2 separate regions of the Homo sapiens genome follow, and region 2 is linked to region 1. The links come from fine-mapping of genetic effects on gene expression. Tissue or cell type: lung. Region 1 holds a variant in brackets; the other region holds the start of a gene. All regions are shown on one strand. Distances are between the middles of the regions.

Region 1 (10,468 bases):
ACTCTGTCGCCCAGGCTGGAGTGCAGTGGTGCGATCTCGACTCACTGTAACCTCCATCTCCTGGGTTCAAGCAATTCTCCTGCCTCAGCCTCCTGAGTAGCTGGGATTACGGGCACCCACCACCATGACTACATAGAGGGAGGATCTTTTGACCATATAGTTGATACCGAAGTTCCAGGTCCCTCAGTCTTGGGGCCCCCTCCAGGCATCTACCCTGCTGTCTTGGGGGCCCTGTTTGGAGAGGCTGCACTCTGGTCCTTGGAAGAAGGAAACTGAGCTGGGCTTTCCTCCCTGTCCCTCCTTCTCCCTGAAGCTGCCCTGTGGGAGGTGTAAGGATTCACCAAGAAGTTGCATGGGTCTGGCTCTGGTGCCTGGCAGACCATGGTGGTTAGGTGTGCATTCAGCATTCACGTACCCCACACAACTATTCTGTGCCAGGCTTGGCGCTAGCCACGGGGGACCCTGTAGTGAGCGTGCCAGATGTGGTCCCTGCCCCCACGGAGCTGATGTGCTAGTGGAGAGAGATGATAAGCCCTGAAAACCAACAAGCATGTAACGTCAGTGCTCTAAAGAGAAATACAGCATGCTTTCCCTTGTGGGATAAGGGAGGCCGGGGAGGGGTGGTTGATTGGTTGGGGGAGAGGGGATGGGGAAGGGCTGATATTTTGTAGAGTGGTCTGGTAAGGCCTTTCTGAGGAGGTGACATTGGAGCAGAGCCCTGAAGGAAGCAGAGGGTGAGCCATGTTAATGTCTAGGGGAAGAGCATTCCAGGCGGTGGGAACAGCAGGTGCAAAGGCCCCAAGGCAGGAGTGTGCCTGGCACAAAGACAGCACAGAAATCTAGTCAGTTGAAGCAGAGGGAGGAAGAACAGAGGACAGAAGGCCTGGGGAGGCAGACAAGTGGTGTAGGACCTCCTAGGCTGTTATGGGGACAATGACGGTGGGAACTGCCCTGGAGGTGGGAGGCCCCTACGGGGTTTTCAGCAGTGACATGAGAATATTGATGTTTACAGGGCCAGGCTGCTGCCAAGCGCAGAAGAGATAGTGGGGCAGGAGTGGTTGGCACTGCCTGCATCGGGCACCCTGGGAGCGCCAGGAAAGTGGCTGGAGCCATGAGCGTGTCCCAGGGTTGCTGAGGGGAACGGGGGGAGGCAGTTTAAGTAGGGGTGACCACAGGTGGGCACGGGTTTCAGGAAATCTGACCCTGACCTTTGTCCTCCCCCCTGCAGCTGAAGCAGGAGATGGGCGGCATCGTGACTGAGCTCATTCGAGACTACAACAGCAGTCGCGAGGACAGCCTGCAGGATGCCTGGGACTACGTGCAGGCTCAGGTGAGGTGGGGCGGGGCTGCAGGAGGCTCTCTGGCCTGGGTGTCCCTGCATTTGGGGCTCTGTGCACCCACATGTCTGGGACTGGCATCTGCAGTGCTCGTGTGTGCCTGACAGTTTGTAGGAGAGTGTGCTTCTATGGGGGCAGGGCACCCCAGTTAGCACCACAACTCCCTGCTCAGGGGGCCCAGAGACTCAGAGGCAGCTTCACAGCTCTGTGCTCCCATTTGTGGCCAGAGAGCATGGGGGCAGTTGTCAGCCCTCTTATCTCAAGCTACACTGGGGAGCGTTGGGAGCTCCACTCTGGGTTTTAGGAAACTGGGAGCCAAGGCTGATATGCTGAGAAGTCCCAGTGAAGGCTGCCTCTGGGGAAGGGCACTAGCTGGGGAGGTGTTGGGGAGCCTTCTAGGGCAAAAGGAGTATTTTAGCCAAATCTTGATACTGGTTTCGCCAGTATGTGCACATACGTAAAAATGCACCAAGCTGAATGTGTGCCCATTAGTTCATGTGTATTATACCTCCATTAAAGTGAGAGAGATGGATGGATGGATGGGTGGACAGATGGACGGACGGACTGACCGACTGACCAACAGATAGACTGACCAGGTTCCCAGCCTGTCTCAATAGTGATCCAATGACCACCTGGCTCTCCTTTCTTGTGGTCCCGGATGCTGCATGTGCCCTTGGCTGGGACCTGACATCTCTGATCTGCAATCCTGTGAGGGCGCAGGACACAGTGGTCACTTAGGGCCTGTTGACACCTCAGGGGAGGGATGTGGAGTACAAAGGGCATGGGCAGCAGGAGAAAGCCTGACTCAGCGGCACCAGGAGAGTTTGCAGAGAGGACACTCCATCTAGGTGACATGGACATGGCCATTTTCTCAGTGGAGGAAGGGGAGAGCGATGTTTTCTGGCCCTGACCGAGGAGATCAGGTGTGGGGGTTGTGGCAGCTGGAAGGCTTGGTGCACACAAGGAAATGTTTTGGTCGCATATGTAGTTTGACCCACAATTGCTGAGACTTTGCTAATTTTAGCAAAGTCTGGATGTCACCAGTGACATAAACCAGTGCCACCTGACAAGGGACCTGGGAGGAGAAGTGGGTCCCTTGGGAGGTGGTAAGCATCCTACCCTGGAAAGTCATTGGCTGGTTCTAGATGATTCTGATGCTGTCAGATGCTGCTTAGGCCGGTGGTAAGTCAGACTCCCAAGGCCTGGAGTGCTAACACTGCCACAGCCGCTAGACCTTTGCTGAGCCTGCTTCCTCATCTATACAATGGGGCTACTGACCCATGCCGTGTGAGATACATTGTTAAAGCCTGAAGCACTTAGGCAGCATTTATTATGTGGTATGTTGGTGGTGATGTTTTAGTCACCATGCACATCCATGGAGACACAGGCGGAGGTGGCGTGTGCTGCTGGGGACCAGGTACAGCCGGAGTCAGGCCAAGGGGTTGCTTGGAAGGAGGCTCTGTCGTAGACGGGCCAAGGAGACCTGCCTCATTTTGCTCTGGTGTAGGATGGCCTGTGGGTGCCCCCAGCCTTGCAGACCTGTGCACCCCTCAGAGGTGCCAGCCTTTTCTTGGAGAGAGGAGGCAGCCCGGCTGCTGGAACAAGCACCTGTAAACCTGGATTAGAAACTGCCTGGAGCTGAGCATTTCTGAGTGTGCCTGGCACGCCCCCTGCTGGCCACTGGCTACTGGTCAGGCGACACCCCTCGGAGCTAGGAAGGAAGCGGTCCAGGAACTGACCCCTGCTGTGACCGTGGCTATCCCATTGAATCCTCCCAGGAACCCCCAGCATTGCGGGGATTCACACACAGAGACCTCCTTTAGCACACAGAGCCCGGAAAGGCTTTCTTCTCTCTAGAACTAGAGCATTTTCTCCTTTAAAATGGCAGAATTGACCAGCTAGCCAAGGTGGCTCACACCTGTAATCCCAGCACTTTGGGAGGCCGAGGCGGGCGGATCACTTGAGGTCAGGAGGTCAAGACCAGCCTGGCCAACATGGTGAAACCCCGTCTCTACTAAAAATACAAACATTAGCCGGGCGTGATGGCGAGTGCCTGTAATCCCAGCTACTCAGGAGGCTGAAGCAGGAGAATCGTTTGAACCCTGGAGGTGGAGGTTGCAGTGAGCCAAGATCACGCTGCTGCACTCCAGCCTGGGTGACTGAGCAAGACTCTGTCTCAGAAAAAAAAAAAAAAAAAAAAAAGGCGGAATTGACCCCGTCTCCTTTTTCACTTTTCACTTTTTTTCCTTTTCACCAGGAAGCTCAGAGGCAAATCTCAACTCCTGCACTAAAGTTGAACGGCCTTTCCTAAGCTTATTGTGCTCCCCACACCTATGCTTGGTACTTTGCCTGCCTCATCCCATTTAGTCCTTGTGATAGCCCTGTGAGTTGGGGATTTTAATTATCCCCATTTACAGATGAGGAAACTGAGGCTAGTTCCTTGATGGAGGTTGCTCAGCTGGTAGGCGGCAGGGCTGGGATTGTAACCCAGTAGCCTGACTTTAAACCCTGCACTGTGAACTGTCTGCCGTCCATTCTCCTTGTGCCCTGCACACCTGCGCTCCTTCAACTTGAACTTCCTTCCTACTCTGCTTTGTATTTTTGCTGGTCCTGGTTTTGATTTTTCTGCTGTACTTGTAGTTTATGATGGTTCGGCTGGGACCAGGGGCCTGGAAGTGGCATATCTCAGTCTCTGTCCTGGGGAGGTCCTCCCTCTGCCAGGAGGGCAGCCTGCCTAGGGTGAGCCGTGAGCACAAGCAGTCTGTCCCCTGCCTTGCCCAGGTGAAGTGCTGCGGCTGGGTCAGCTTCTACAACTGGACAGACAACGCTGAGCTCATGAATCGCCCTGAGGTCACCTACCCCTGTTCCTGCGAAGTCAAGGGGGAAGAGGACAACAGCCTTTCTGTGAGGAAGGGCTTCTGCGAGGCCCCCGGCAACAGGACCCAGAGTGGCAACCACCCTGAGGACTGGCCTGTGTACCAGGAGGTGTGCGGGGGGCTGCGGATCGGGGGCGGGGCTCCGAGGGCGTTGGGGGCCATCTGGGCTACTGCTCAGCAATTCCTTCCTGCATTTAGTTCCTTCCCTTAATTCATCTGTCATTTGTACCTTCATCTACTTCTTTGTTAATGTATTTATTCAAGGAACAGGCAGAGCCCTCTGTAGGGGCTTCCGGGCTGGGACTGGGGGGCTCTCGGTGGTTCTGCATGGCGGGGTGGGATGGTGCAGAGCGGGGTGATGTGACCGCATTCTGCCCTTGCAGGGCTGCATGGAGAAGGTGCAGGCGTGGCTGCAGGAGAACCTGGGCATCATCCTCGGCGTGGGCGTGGGTGTGGCCATCATCGAGGTCTGAGCCCCCTCCCCCATCCCTTCTCCATCCCAGGTCCTCCTGGGTTGTCTCTGTTCTGCTGATCTCCTTGGGGAGGTGGTGGCCAAGGGGGCCAGCACCCCATCAGCTTCCAGAGGCCCTCTGGTCTGAGCACTGTCTGGCTGTGTGACCTCAGACAAGGCACTGCCCCGCTCTGGGCCTCCCTCTGCTGCCTGCATCACAGGGTGGTTGTGAGGCTCAAGTTGAGGATCCACTTAATCCCCATGTAAACCTGGATGGTGAGGCTGGGGCGTCTGAGGCCGGGACACCCAGCCTCCCTCTGACTCTCCGCCTCTCCCCACAGCTCCTGGGGATGGTCCTGTCCATCTGCTTGTGCCGGCACGTCCATTCCGAAGACTACAGCAAGGTCCCCAAGTACTGAGGCAGCTGCTATCCCCATCTCCCTGCCTGGCCCCCAACCTCAGGGCTCCCAGGGGTCTCCCTGGCTCCCTCCTCCAGGCCTGCCTCCCACTTCACTGCGAAGACCCTCTTGCCCATCCTGACTGAAAGTAGGGGGCTTTCTGGGGCCTAGCGATCTCTCCTGGCCTATCCGCTGCCAGCCTTGAGCCCTGGCTGTTCTGTGGTTCCTCTGCTCACCGCCCATCAGGGTTCTCTTAGCAACTCAGAGAAAAATGCTCCCCACAGCGTCCCTGGCGCAGGTGGGCTGGACTTCTACCTGCCCTCAAGGGTGTGTATATTGTATAGGGGCAACTGTATGAAAAATTGGGGAGGAGGGGGCCGGGCGCGGTGGCTCACGCCTGTAATCCCAGCACTTTGGGAGGCCGAGGCGGGTGG[A/G]TCACGAGGTCAGGAGATCGAGACCATCCTGGCTAACATGGTGAAACCCCGTCTCTACTAAAAATACAAAAAAAATTTAGCCGGGCGCGGTGGCGGGCACCTGTAGTCCCAGCTACTTGGGAGGCTGAGGCAGGAGAATGGTGTGAACCCGGGAGCGGAGGTTGCAGTGAGCTGAGATCGTGCTACTGCACTCCAGCCTGGGGGACAGAAAGAGACTCCGTCTCAAAAAAAAAAAAAAAAAAAAAAAAAATTGGGGAGGGAAGGGCGTTAGATAAGGCACTCTGGGCTGTCAGGAGACTGCCTACTGGGTGGGTCAACTTATTTCCCACTATGACATTTATATCTTTATTTTTCACAATTATATTGAAGGCAGTGGGAGAGGGGAGAGGGTGGGTTTTACCTGATATTAAGGGGTGGCACCCCTTCCCCAGGCCTGATGCAGGTCCATCTAGACAGCTCAGATTAGCCTAGGCCATGCCCTAGGGACACGGCCTAGGGGAGCTGGGCTGGAGGGGGTCTGCCTGGGTAAGGGGATCTGGCTTGGCCCTGAGCTGCTTAGGGACAGGTGAGTCCTTGGGGGCATGGCACAGAGCTGGTCCTGTATTCTCCAGGGTCCGGAGCTGGCCAGGGGCGGGGAGGAGGAGGATGGCTTCTCCTGGGAGAAGGTGGGCTGGCCTTTCTTGGCAAGCGGTCCTCTGGCCCCTGGGGAGTGGGGTGGGTGAGGCTGTGCCTTGTAGGGGGAGAGGGGAGGGGGCTTTGTGTGCACCATTCTGTAAAACACACTCAAGATTCTAAGACTATTAAAGAGGATTTATAACAGTCTAGTCTGGAATGGTAGGGATGCTGCTTCCTGGGGCAGGGGAGGACCCAGGGCAGAGGGTGTGAGCAGAGTGGCTGGGTCTGCTGGAGACTGCTGGACCCCTCACTGCTCTGCCCTCCCCGCAGGCATCTGCTTCTGCAGCCTGAACCTTAGGACCGTGATGGGCCAGGCTCTGATGGGCCTGCCTGCATGCCGGGGTGCCTGGAGTTTGATTTGGTGCTAAGAGAGGTATAGATTGTACCTCTCAATTCCTGCTTCTGAAACTAGGGTATGGGTGCCCCCAGAAGCTGCACAAAAGTGGGCTGGTGATGGGGGACAGGGAAGCCACAGGATAAACTTGGCATCGCTTTCTAGAGCATCCGTTTCTGCAAAGATTTGTGGAAGGAAACATTTTCATACTAAAGAAATGTGATGGAGTAAGATGTGCAGAATTCAGGGGACTTTTTAAGATGAAATGTGAGACTTTGGGAGGCTGAGGCAGGTGGATCACTTGAGGTCAGGAGTTCGAGTCCAACCTGGCCAACATGGTGAAACCCCATCTCTCCAAAAAATACAGAAATTAGCCGAGTGTGGTGGTGCACGCCTGTAATGCCAGCTACTCAGGAGGCTGAGAAAGGAGAATTGCTTGAACCCGGGGGATGGAGGTTGCAGTGAGCCAAGATTGTGCCACTGCACTTCAGCCTGGGCAACAGAGCGAGAATCTGTCAAAAAAGAAGAAAGGAAGAAAAAGAAAACGACAGAGAGAGAGAGAGAAAAAGAAAAAGAAGCTTGCTCTTACTTGTGCACGGCTCTGACGACTGAGCCCCAGCATGCCCCTTGCCCGGCGTCATGAAGTCCAGAGGGCACTTGCCCCACCTTCTCTCATTTCTGGAGCCAGTGGGGAGGGGAACTCTTGCCTCCCTGCAGTGGGGCCAGGCGGGGCGGCGGCTAGAGTGGTGTTTCAGCAGGGACCACCAGGCGGCGCTGCAGCCTCAGCCTAGGAGCCCGGCAGAGCCCAAAGGTTCCGTGGTTACTCCCAGTTTCGCCAACGCGGGGCCTGCCAGCGTCCCACTCCAGTGGAAGCACTTGTGAAAATGCAGATTCCAAGGCTCAAGGATTCTGGCGCTGCAGATCTAGGGTGGGGACAAGGAATCTGCCTATTTGCACCCCTTTGCGTTGATTCCGGAAGATTTTCAGACCTGGAGTAATGTCTGTCCCAAGCCACGTGATGACCTCTCAGCGAATGTGGCAGCTGAGGAGGTGTCAGCGGTGGGGTCGGCTGTGGGTCCCTCTGTGGCCTTGGTCGCCTCCCTCTGGGATGGGGGCAGGAGAGGAAAATGTCGATGGTTCCACCTGGCCTGACTTCCCTGGCCCCCCACAGCTTCCACCCTCAGGAAGGGTAGCAGAGAGCTGTTGGGTGTCTTTTCATAAATGCTTTCTCACTGGGAGCAAGGGGACCTGAGTTTGAGTCCAGCTGCATCTCCATCTTCCTGTGCGACACGGGGCCTGGCAGGCTGAGGGTGGGCTCAAAGCTGTTTGCAAAATAGAGGACTGAGAAAACGTCAGAAGTTAGCGAAGGGGTGGGCTGCTTCCTCTGACACGTCCATCCTGCCCAGAGCTCACAGCTGGAAGGGGCCAGAGCCAGGATTTGAACCCCACGTATCTGACTTCAAAGACCATCCTCCTGGCTCCACTGGCTCCTGCCCTTCCAGATTTCCCAGAACAGCCCCAGGACGTGTGTAGTGTGAGGCTCTGACCCTCGCTTTTGTGAAATCTGGTCACTGTGAGCTCTGAGCCTGCTGGGTTCCTCATTTCAACCTCCTGGGGAGCACCCAGTTTCAGCAACCCACTTACTCCCAGCCTGTGAGGTTTTGGGAGGGAGGGAACATAGACCCATGTCTAACACTCAGAATCGTCCCTGCAGCCACTAATCTGTCCCATGCCCATCTGGGGCTTCCACACCTTCCAGCTGCCCTCCCTGGGCCCTCTGTGGGCTGCCATCTCTCCTGCCAAGGGCCCTGACAGGCCCAAAGGACTGGCACATGGGTACCATGTGGAGGAGAGTACAAGGGTGCTCCTTGGCAGTGCCCACCCACAGCTCCCTGGGGCAGCCAGGAAGAATGGCTGGAGCAAAGGGTTGCTCTTTGGGCTCCCGTGGGAGGTTAGAGACAGTGCCTAGGATGTGTTCAGGGAGCTGGACTTTGGGGGGCACTGATTGGCATGGCCACTGACCAATAGGTATGGAAGTCAGGCCTGAGCTGGAATGGGATCCTTACGTATGGATTGGCGGGAGGTGCAGGAGCTCTGAGAGATTGAGCTGGGGGGGAATTTTCAACTGGTGTGGAAATATTTCTCCATTTTATTCATAATAACTGGTATGGCTGGCTGGGTGAGTACTGGTGAATGGCAGCCTGATACATGTGCACATACATGCATGCACTCTCTCACACGCACACACTCGAGGCCCTGAAGGCCCCTGAGGGCTCAGTCCATTCCCAGCTGGGAGGAACCCTAGCTCTTCTTCCCTGAGACTAAGCCATGGGTGGCCCGTAGTGAACAGGGAAAGCCAAGTGTCTTCCTGCCTGGCCTTCCCGGGCCTACACTGCAGAGCCCCCTCTGCCGCTGATCACCATCCTGTCTCCTAGCAGAGCTGCCTCCAGCCTCTGCCCCAGATGATCTTCCAGGTGAGCAGGTCCCCCAGGCTGAGAGCAGCCGGGTGGAGGGGCACACTGGTGACGCTGGAGCATCTAGCCAACAGGCATCTCCTGGGCCAGCGCTCCCATCGCCTTTCTCCCCTGCAGAAGGACAGAGACCCAGGTTGCTACGCTGCCTCGGGGCAAATGTCTGGCTGTTCTCTGGGGTCTTTAGAGGCTGTAGGCTAAGGTTTATTCATTTATTCATTCATTCATCCCATGAATACTTAATGGCACAGACTATTTGTGAAGCACAGTTCTAGGATCTTAGGAACACAGCAGTGAACACACACAAACCCCCTGCCCACATGGCACCTGCATTCTGATGAGTGTAGAGACTCTTGCACACAACTGATGCACCAGGACACACGTGCACACACAGCACACGCATGCACACAGCACACCCTGCCACACGTACACAGGTACGTACCAGCACACACTGCCGACTGCTGACAGCACAGTCTGAGCCAAGTGCTGCTGTGGGATCCCTGGGGCCCATCCAAGGCCCCTTCCTGTGGAAGGAAGTAGAATGAACAGCGCGTCGAACAAACAGGAAAGTAGGAGGAAGTGCTCATCGCCCCTGCCACAGTGCAGGAATCAGCCATTGCCCTGGCAATCCCCTTCCCAACTGAAATCAAATAGAATCAGAGCAGCTGCCACTGGACGTGACAGGCTGTGCAACTTCACCTCTCTTAGTCTTATCGGGAAAATGGGGACTCTCATTCCTCACTCCCAGTGCTGTTGTGGGAGCCAAATGCGGTCACGTACACAGTGAGCTCATTCCCCAAGCAGCCCATTCCAGGACTGGCCCCAGCTTCAAGGGGAGGTTTCCCATCCTCTGGGGGATACCTTCCCTGAGTAGGAATGAGGCCCACGGGAGGACTTTGGGCCTTGGTGCCTCCGGGGCAGGGATGGCTGATTGGCCCAAGGGGCTGGGGCTGGGGCAGGTAAGACCTGTACTCAGCCTCTTGCCTAGTGGGAAGGTGAGCAGGTAGGAGGGCCATTAGAGGACATCTGAGCTGTGAGCACCCCGGCCCCCAGCTGTCCCATCTGACATCATTTCCCCAGCACCTGCCTTCTGAGCAAGGGGAATGTCAGGCCCAGAGCCAAGTGCCTCTCCCCAAGTGACCTCAGATGCTTTAAGCAGTAGCCCCTGGGATAGGAGTGGGCTTCCTGCAGGATGCTGGGGGCAGAGGGGCGGCCAGCCAGAACAGCTGGGAGTGCAGAGGGGCTGTGTGGAGGTGGGGAGTGGAAGGAGAGAGCTGGAGAGTCTCCAGCAGCCTCTTGGAGGACTGAGTGGGCGGGAAGGGATGTTAGTGGCAGCTGATAGGAGTGGAGGGGTCCATCCTCTGCCCTTGCATCACACACCTGGGTGAGCCCAGCTTGGGGCTTCCAGGGTGACAGGGGCCCTGTGATCCCAGCACCCAATCCTCTTGGTCCTGGTTCATAGAGGACTCAGGCGCTTGGGGTGGTGTCTGAG
Region 2 (9,548 bases), 54 kb before region 1:
GGATCCCCAACCTCCAATTGAACCACCTGACATTGCGTAGAGCAGAGATAAGCCGTTGCTGCTGAGCCCACCCCAAACTGCAGATTTATGGGCAAAATAAATGAGTGGGATGGTTTGTTACATAACAGTAGGAAACAGATACCCGCACTCATTCTCTTTACCTTCCTCCACCAGAGATGTGCAAAAGTCTTGGGGCCTTAACCTAGGCCCAGACACTAACAGGGAACTGGCCCCCATGTTCTTGCCTACAAGTTCTTTGAAGTCTCCTGCTCAGCTGTTCATCTTCCACCTTTGGGGTGGGGGAATCTTCTGAGAGCCTGGCAATCCTATAGCCATACCTCTCTGAGGTCTTGCCACACCACCGTCTTCCCCATCTCCAAGTTGGCCATGGATATCTTCTCTCAAGGCTTTCTAGGGTGGTTCTTCTCACCCCTTTTCCCACCTCCAGAACTCCTGGCTCCACCTCTAGAATGGACTAGAGGTAGAGTCTCACTAGAAGTGTCTGCGCTTTCTGCCTGGCAAAATGCCCAAGGTGAGTCATGACAAAGCTTGCCTTCTGCTGGAAGAGAGGGGATAGGGACAATGCTGAGGGAGCCAACCCAATGTGATATTTCAGTGAATGACTCTGCTATGGTTTGAATGTATTGGAAACTGAATCCCCAAATTCATATGTTGATGGTATTTGGGGGTAGGGCCTTTGGGAGGATTAGATAAGGTCATCAGGATGGGGCCCTCATGATGAGGACTGGTAGCTTTATAATAGGATGAAGAGAGACCTGCGGTGGCATGCCCTTGCCCTCTCACCATGTGATGAGTCAGTAAGAAGGCTTTCACCAGATGTAGCCTCTCAACCTTGGAATTCCCAGGCTGCAGAACTATACAAAATAAAATTCTTTTATCGATTACCCAGCCTATGGTATTGTGTTATAGCAACAGAAAATGGACTAAGTTAGACTCAGATGCACATCTACTCAACAACTGTCCCTTAAGCTTCCAGGCATGTGCTAGAAGCTGGGGAGACAAGGCCAAATGGCAATGTCACCATAGACCTGGACAAGAGGGCACCTGTGGCCACCCAGAGCCCACACCTGACCTTGATCATGCTTTGGGTGTTTAAAAACCTAGACTGCCTATCCAGCCCAAGCCAGTTTTTTTGTTTTGTTTTGTTTTGTTTTGTTTTGTTTTGTTTTGTTTTTTGAGACAGGGTCTTGCTCTGTTGCCCAGCTGGAGTGCAGTGGTGCAATCTCAGCTTACCGCAACCTCCGCCTCCCTGGCTCAAGCGATCCTCCCACCTCAGCCTCCCGAGTAGCTGGGACCACAGGCACACGCCACCACACCCAGCTAATTTTTGTAGTTTTTGTAGAGACAGGGTTTCATCCTGTTGCCCAGGCTGGTCTTGAGCCCCTGAGCTCTTTAATCCTCCTGCCTCAGCCTCCCAAAGGGCTGGGATTTCAGGTGTGAGCCACTGTGCTCAGCCCCCCAGCCAGTTTTAAGGTTTACAAAGCTGCCTGCCCAGGTCCATCCTCCTGAGGGTACATCCTGTCCCTGGAATGTGCATTCATAGAGAGGTGACGAAGAGGTGGCTGTAGGCAAGGCGTGTGGGCAAAGTTTGGGTGTGTGGGCTGGAGTATCCACATGCCTGAGTCCTAGGCCACTTGTGACACAAGACAGAGATGGAGTGTGAAGAGAAGTGGAGTGGGTGGGCTGAGGGCTAGGGCCAGGCTATCCTCCCGCACTGCCATGTTCTTGCATAAAATTCTAAAGAGTCCAAGAATGCTAAATTTGAACATGGTCTTCCTGGTCATTAGAAAGAACATTTGTCAAGGCAGGAGAATACACATTTTATTTCACAGTCAGTTAAATGTTTAGATACAAGGTATCTGGTCCTTGATTTGCACTCTTAACTTGGGCTCTCCATGTTCGGGCAGGTCAGCATAACAGGACCAGTGCCCAGGCCCTGCACTCCTACAGGGAGACACTCTTCTGTGGGACTCAGACAATGACAGGGAGTATGGCAGAGATTCTAGAAGCTGCCTGAAGACTGCTCTCAATGTCACCACAGCTGCCTCTATCTCTAATCAGGAGTGGCAGGGCAGCAAGGGATAGCAGATGGGACTAATATGAGAGAATGTCTTCATGGGGGGAGGGGACAGTGAGGGGATCCAGCTGTTTTGCCAATGGCCAGTTCCCATCTGTCTGCTGGAGCCCTATTAACTTCAGTAGGGATGGTACTAGGTTCAAGAGGCTGAAGGAGAGACCAGAGCCAGCAACTGGGACATGGGGTTTTATTGGGAAACTTACACACAGGGACGGCCGGTGGCAGTGGGCTGGACAGGAGAACTGTACAGTCCCATGGCAGGCTGGGCAGGAGAGCCACAACCGCTTACAAAAAGCATGCAGTTTATACATCACTCTCACTTAGCACCCTCCCCCTAACAACCCCCACCTGATAACCTTCATTTGGCCCCAAACAAAGAGCTTTGAACCCCTGTACACCCTGCATTCCACAGGATGGGCCGGGGTTCAAATGTTCCTCACAGATAAGGAATGAATCTCCAGGTTGGTCATTCCCGGATTCCTTAGCTCAAAACTCCAAACACACATTGGGGTGCATCTGCCATACAGGACCATTCTCAGGGTATGCTTAAGTCAAGTTATTGCTGTCAGGAGCATCTGCCATACACCATCACAAACACCCCCAGCTCGGAGGGAGCGGGGTGTGGAGTAGGGTGGAATAGGAGGAATTTTATGCCCATTTTGCATGGGCTGGGTAGGGTAGGGATCTGAAACCCAGCCCAAGACAGAATGGCACAGTGGTTCTCAAAGTGTGGTCCCCGGACCAGCATCCACATCATCTAGGAGCTTGTTAGGATCTTAACCACTTGCAGGATAGAGGGTGTCTCTCTGCGGGTATGACACACTGCTGGGTTTAAAGGATTCTCCAGCCTCACTTTTCTGACTTGGTGTGGGAATGCTATGAAGGAGACTTTTTGCTGAAAAGAGAACATTTTCTGAGCATGTACGGCATTCAAGCGGTGGGCCAAATACTTTATGAATGCTGTCACATGTAATCTTCAACAGCTACCATCAAGATCGGTATGATTGTTATGGCTCATTTTATTATTATTCCCTGTTTAAGGGCTCATCCCAGAGGTTAAGTATCTTGCCTTGTCCTGGGTTTAAAACGCAACCAGGAAGCTACCTAGGTCTGTGTGATTCTCAGACCACCCTGACTTCTTTACAGTTTGCTCAACAGTGGTTCATGCTTGAATGTGATTCAGAATCACCTGGAGGCCTTATTAAAACCAATTGTCCCACAGTTTTCCATTCAGTAAGTTGGGATGGGGCTTCAAAATACGCACTCCTAACAAGTTCCCAGATGATGTTGCTCCTGGTTCAAGGACCACGCTGTGAGAACTACAGTGCTGGGCTGGGATCCAGCTCCCGCCCTTACTCCACTCGTACAAAGCGCTCATAATCATACCCTCCCACAACGGTGTGTTGTGAGAGGACATTGTGATAATGGAAGTGAAAGAGCTTTGTCAGCTGCACAGGTGAATGCCCCTGGTCATTAACCAGGTAATCTGCCTGAGGCTAGTCCTCTGGAGCCTGGGAGGGCAGAGGGCTGGGACGCAGGGTGGGCACCGCAGCCACCTAGAGAGCTCTTGCAGCCCACCTCAATTTTGGGCCACTTTTTCTTCAGGGAGAAAGCCAGCTTTGAGGGCTTAGGCCCACAGCCCCTCCTGCCACTATTCTCATCAACCCACACCTCCTCCCTCACCTCAGGCAGCTGCTGGGCACTGCCCCAGCACTGGTTGTTCTGGGCTACTTCCCCAGGGGCCAGTCCAGGCAAGCTGGGGCAGCTCAAGCCTGTGACTCAGGACCTGAGGCTGGATCCCGCTCACGCCCGCCTCCATGAGATTCAGAGCCCTCGACTTCCCTTCTCTGAGCCTTAAACTGCGCATTAGTAAAATAGGCGCAACGAGAGTACCCATGAGTTGTGGGAATTCAAGGGCTAGAACTGTATTCAGCGCTTGGCATAGAGCCTGGCCCCTGGCAAGGATTCAATCAATGGTAGTCAGTATTTTCAAAAAGTTCCTGGGCCCAGGCCGCCTCCTGATAGAGGCCCCGACTTAGGACACAAACCGCTCCCACGCCGTTCCCCGGCGGCACCCGGATACACCCGCCCTGGAATGCCAGCGTGGGGGCCCCAGGGCTACCCGCCCGAGATGAGAGGGGCAGGGCAGGGCAGGATTAGGAAGGCGCTGAGCCCAGGCTGGTGCGGGGAGGGGCGTGGCCTCACCCTACTAGGGCCGGGGGATGGGGTGGGCTCGAAGGAGAAAGTGAAGGAGGCGGGGGCGCTGGGAGGGCCCGGGAGGAGACCGGGAGGACGAGGTAGGCGGGAGCTGGGCGGGACCGTTAGGCAGCGCCGTGAGTGGACAGGGCTGGAGCGGGGCGGGCTTAATCCCCAGTGTAACCTGGGGGCGGGGCTGCCGGGATAGAGGAGAGACTCCGTAGCGGGGCGGGGCCTCAGCTCCAGCTGGGCCCGGGGGCGAGGCTGGTTGGGGTACGGCCATAGTGGGCGGGGCCTGGCCGGCGGGAGCGCACCGCCTTCCCAAAGGGCTCGGGGGCGGGGCCGGCGGAGGGGGCGTGTCTTCTGGGGGCGGGGCCTGCCGAGTCCGCGGCGTTCCCCGGCTGCAGCCGGGAGGGGGCCGAGGAGTGACTGAGCCCCGGGCTGTGCAGTCCGACGCCGACTGAGGCACGAGCGGGTGACGCTGGGCCTGCAGCGCGGAGCAGAAAGCAGAACCCGCAGGTGAGCAAGGGGGCAGCGGGCCGGGGTAGCCTGCCGGACAACCATAGGCAAAGTTAGTTTTAGCCCCCGCTTCTGCGGTCCGGCTCGGACAACTTTCCTCGGAACTAGTGACAGGTCGGGGCAGCTGGTGGGTGAAAAGGAGCTTTAGCCACCAGTCCTGAACCCCCAGTTCTCACACTCGGCCGTGCACAGCTGCGTGATCCTGGGTCCGTCCCTCTACCTGGCTCTGGACCTCCCGGGTTCCAGCAGGAGGAAGTGAACCAGGTGAATTCCACGCTCCCGTTGCCCTTTCTCACTTAAAACGCCGGAAGGTGAGAGCTGGCAGGTGAGAGCAGGCTGCAGGTCGCCACAGGTGTTCCCATCGCGTTGCCCTCTGCAGTTTCTCTCCCTGCAAAATGGGACTGAGAGAAGCGAATTGCTTTAAAGAGTGCACTGTTTCCTCGGTTGGGGCTCGAACCCACCAACCCTGGGGAAGAGGAGGCCAAAGCAGGGAGGTTCCATTTCCCGCCTCACCTGCTTCCCACCAATTCTAACAGTTCAACTGAGCCGGACCCCCTAAGACTTCAAGTTGGAAACTCAGTGGGGCTTTTCCAGGTGAGCTGGCCTGAGCAGGAGGTTGGAAACTGGGGAACAGTTCTTACACTGGTGAGTGGGGAAGAGAAGGGAAAACCCCACCAATCCTTGGGCCCAGGGTCAAGCCCAGGGCCCCAGGGGCCCTTGAAGCATACCCGGGGTTAATTTCTTGGCTGACGGGTTCTGTTCCTGGAGGTGGTGGGTGCTCTGTGCTGGGCCCCAGTAGCGGGGCAGCATAGTTCTGTGGTCAAGGCTTGGGCTTTGGGATCAAACTGATTTGGATTCCATTCCCCCTCCAAACTTCAGTTTCCTCACCTGTAAAATGGGGATAATGACAATATCCAATAGCAGGAGCAAGCACTAAATAGAATAATGTGTATACACTACTTAGCAAGGTGCCAGGAAACCAGTGAGACCTCCCTCTGTGACAGCTGCTTTGATGCGGGTGGGCAGGTGATGGGCTTGCTTCCTATGGGGAATGAGCCTTTTTTTTTTCTTGGAGAGATGGGGTTGGCTACAGCCCCTCCTGACCTTGTGAAAGCCAGAAATTGCCACCTGCCACCAACATCACTCTATTTGAGGGATGAGGACTGTGTCATCTGGAACAAAGAGTGGCTGAGTTTTCTGTAATGTTGCTTGAGGTTGGTAAGTGTTGAGTTAAATAAGTCTAAAAATGTTTACTGAGCACCTACTATATGCTAGAGAGAGCTAGAGGATACAGAGGTGAACTAGCCAGGCCTGAGTTGCTGACAATGAGGGCTCCCCCATCCCTACCATGTCCCTGTAGAGAGGATCAGTCACACCCAGGGCTTATAACCAGATGAGATTTCATGGGTCTGTTCTGCCCTGGTGGCTGGAATCCAGCTATACCATTGCACACTTGGCTTGGGATGGGGGCGAGGGGCAATGTGGGCACCCGATATCTAAGCAGGGTTGGACACTGAAGGACGCTGAAGGTGCTGCATTATATTGGCTCCCTGCATCTTCTGGGAGATAAGCTGTACAGTATGGAACAAACTGGAAAGTGCTGTGGGACAGAGACGGACTGGCGGCTGCGCTGTGTGCAGGAGACTGTGTGTGTATGTAGGGCAGGGGGAGGTGTTCAGAAGAGTGAGACACTTGAGAAGCCAGGGCAGGGGGTGGGGGTAAGGAGGCTTCCTGGAGGGGGTGAGACTTGAATAGGACTTTCTCTCTGGGCTCCTGGTCCTGGTTTGGCTTGGATCAACATGGGACCACAGTCTCTTCAAGCACTGAAGTGGCATAAATTGGAGTTTGGTATGGTGGGGAGGGAGAGGGTCTGGTAGGTGGTGCCTGAGGTGGGGAGGAGGAGACGTTCATTTCAACAGAGCCTACCTAGTGAGCCTTAATGGAAAGCCCTCCCCACCACCACCCCCACTTCCTGCTCGATGAATGACAAGCGACCACATAAGGCCTGCACCCTCAGGTTGCTTACCATCCGGGAAGGGGCTTACACAAGAATACCAGGGACTCTGATGGAAGATAAATGAAAAAAGGATTAGAGGGATCTTCAGGGCCTTACAGACTGGGAAGATTTCGGCAGCCAGAATGAAGATAGTGTCTTGAGGAGAGGAAAATGCCTAGGCAGAGGCAGGGAGGTCAACCTGTCCTGAGAATTCTCGAGAAACCTCTAGGTTGCTCATTCTGGCTGAAGTTTGGGAACGTGTGGGGATATGCAGTGGGAATAGTAGGTGGGATCAGCTTACGGAGGGCCTTGAATGACAGGATAAGAACTTTGGATCTGATTTGCAGAAAGTGGGAGCCACTGAAGGTTTCTGAGGAGAGGAGTGACACAACAGAGCAGCACTTTAGGAAAGTCAGTCTGTACCAGATGTGCTGGGGTGGAGGATCCAGCGGTCAAGGGATAATGAACCAATGGCTGCAGTGACTGGGAAGAAGGGGTCTGGGTGGCTTTGGGGATGTCTGCAACTGGGAGTGAAGGAAGAGACACCAGCCACAGGGAGAGCAAAGGCACCATTGGAGGGGTGGGAGGGGACTGTTCCAGCACATTTGCACTTCTTTCTCCTCCCTATCCTGTCTGGTACATAGCAGGGTCTCAGGAAGGTGGCTGGATTGGGTGAGTGGCGGGGTTGCTGGGAGGGTGATGAATGCTACAGAGGGGTTTGCCCATGAAGGGGAGGCATCTGGGCCGAAAGGTGGGAGCCTGTGCCAGCCAGCAGTAAGTTTGGGGGTCGGGGGCGGGATGGTTAGAAGAAGTGCCTGCTGATCCCTCCCTCCCATCCCAGCCCAGGGAGGATAGGGGTGAGAGGTCAGCCATGTGCTATCTCTGGCAGTGGGTGAGCAGTCAGGGCACAAGTTTCCCACAGTAGGGGGACTGGGGCAGGATTTTGGCTTCCCTGGGCTCCTCTGAAGTTTCCGCTATGTGGGGGCGGCCCCCTCTGTCTTGAGGCCTCACGCTTTAGAGCCACAGCCTGGAAGCTCCCACCGGCCATCCCCTTCCACCCTGGGGACCCAAACCTGTTCCCCTAAGGACCAGACAGTCCTCCCTCAACCCATGGCTGAGCAGCCCCAAGTTCTGAGTGTTGTTTCAGATTCGGAGCATCTGGGGCCAGCTGGCACCCCTGATTCTGGCTTGACCTTGGCCTTGGCCTTCTGCTCCAAACCGTTATACCCACTTCCTCTGCCCCATGGGAAGCTCACAGGGGGCGGTTATGACTTAATCAAGAACATCAAACGGCCAGGAGCTGGCTCTGTGAGAGGTGGGAAGGGAGGGAAGAGCCTGGACTGTTTGGCCTGGGCCCCTCTGTGGGACAGGACCCGTTTAATCTCAGCAGGAACTGCCCTACCCACCCGCTTCCCCTCCACTAAGCCGGGGTCTGAGGAGCTGGGAGGGGAAGCCCAGAGGTAAACATGGAGTGAGTGGTGTGGGATGTGTTGCTCCCCTCGCCCCTGATGCTGCCCTAAGAAGAGGCAGACAACCACAGACCCGGGGCCTCTGCAACAGGCCCAGCTGGTGTCTCTCGGAGGCTGGCTGGTTCCTGACTCACCCCCGGGCTTCCCCTTCCACTGTGGTTTTCCTGTCAGCAGCTGATTCACTGTGCTGACATGGACAGGCAGCTGATGGAGGAAAGAGACCTGTGTTCTGGTCCTTGGAGTTGGCTGCTGCTCTGCTGTGTGTATGTTGTGTGACCTTAGATAAGTTCCTTCTCTCTGGGATTCCTTCCCTGACTTGCTGATGCCCCATTCTTTCCTTGGCTCTCGGGGAGTTCTGGGACCTGGGATCTATCCTTTGCAAAGTAGGGCATGTCTGTGAACACCCACCCATACTCAGGCATGCGCACACACACAAATACAACCCCAACACAGAGGAGCTGGGCAGCTCCCCTCAAAGAGCACTTGATCCTACCTCCCTATTTTTACCTTGTTTCCCCCACCTGAAGCACCTTTATCTTCTTTCTGCCTGTTAACAGATTAGGGAGATGATGGTACAGCATGGCGGTAAAGCACTGGACTTTAGAGTTGAGATCTCGGCCCTGCCAATTTCTGGCTACGTGACTCTTTCTGAGCCTCAGTTTTTGAACCTGCAAATGGGGATAATAATGGTCATGACTTCATAGGTCATGAGGAGAAGACAAAAAAGTGCACATGAAATGCTTAGTATTGTTATACCTAGCACATAGTAAATGCTCAATAAAGGAGAGCCATTGTTGTTTGCTGTATCTGGTTGGTCTTTCAAGGCTGGTGCCAGGCTCCTTCTCAGGCCCCCAGGGACACTCCCAGAACACCTTCCTTCTGCACAGGGCCTCTGTGCCTCTCCAATATGTGTGTGCCCCAAGACGCCAGTCATGTCTGGCTATGTGGGGCTCTCTGGCTCTTCCTGGGGGTGGCTGGGTCTCCTCACTGTGACGCTCAGCTTCCTGAGGGGCAGTAGGTCTGAACATCTCTGGCTGCCTTTCCCAAGCCCCTCATTGCCCTTCACCTTCTCCTCTGTGCTTGGCTGCCTTTCCCAAGCCCCTCATTGCCCTTCACCTTCTCCTCTGTGCTTGTCTACACTGTGTACCCTCCTCTTTGATCCTGCCACTTTGTGGTGTATGATGTGTTTCCATGAGCTCTCCTGGGCAGGCACTGCCCTGTCCTGTCTGTATCTCTGATTCCTGGCATACAGCAGGCACTTGGGGATCGA

What was found. PIP is the estimated chance that this variant, and not a neighbour inherited with it, causes the effect.
Region 2: CD82 starts here. The variant in region 1 is fine-mapped to the expression of CD82 in lung (TOPMed, PIP 0.93).

What each region holds. Positions count from the first base shown.
Region 1 is chr11:44,614,044-44,624,511 of GRCh38, forward strand. CD82 (CD82 molecule) reads left to right here. Exons shown (of 10, transcript NM_002231.4): 7 at 1,229-1,330; 8 at 4,119-4,322; 9 at 4,597-4,680; 10 at 5,006-6,315. The coding sequence ends at 5,083. Among named protein-coding and RNA genes, the nearest start is that of CD82-AS1, 14 kb to the left of the region's middle. RefSeq lists an enhancer at 2,374-2,723. The variant A/G (reference allele first, on the strand shown) is at 5,497.
Region 2 is chr11:44,560,924-44,570,471 of GRCh38, forward strand. CD82 (CD82 molecule) reads left to right here and starts at 4,740. Exons shown (of 10, transcript NM_002231.4): 1 at 4,740-4,813. RefSeq lists enhancers at 912-1,413, 1,414-1,913, 4,753-5,253, 5,759-5,828, 8,135-8,184 and 1 more and a silencer at 4,239-4,838.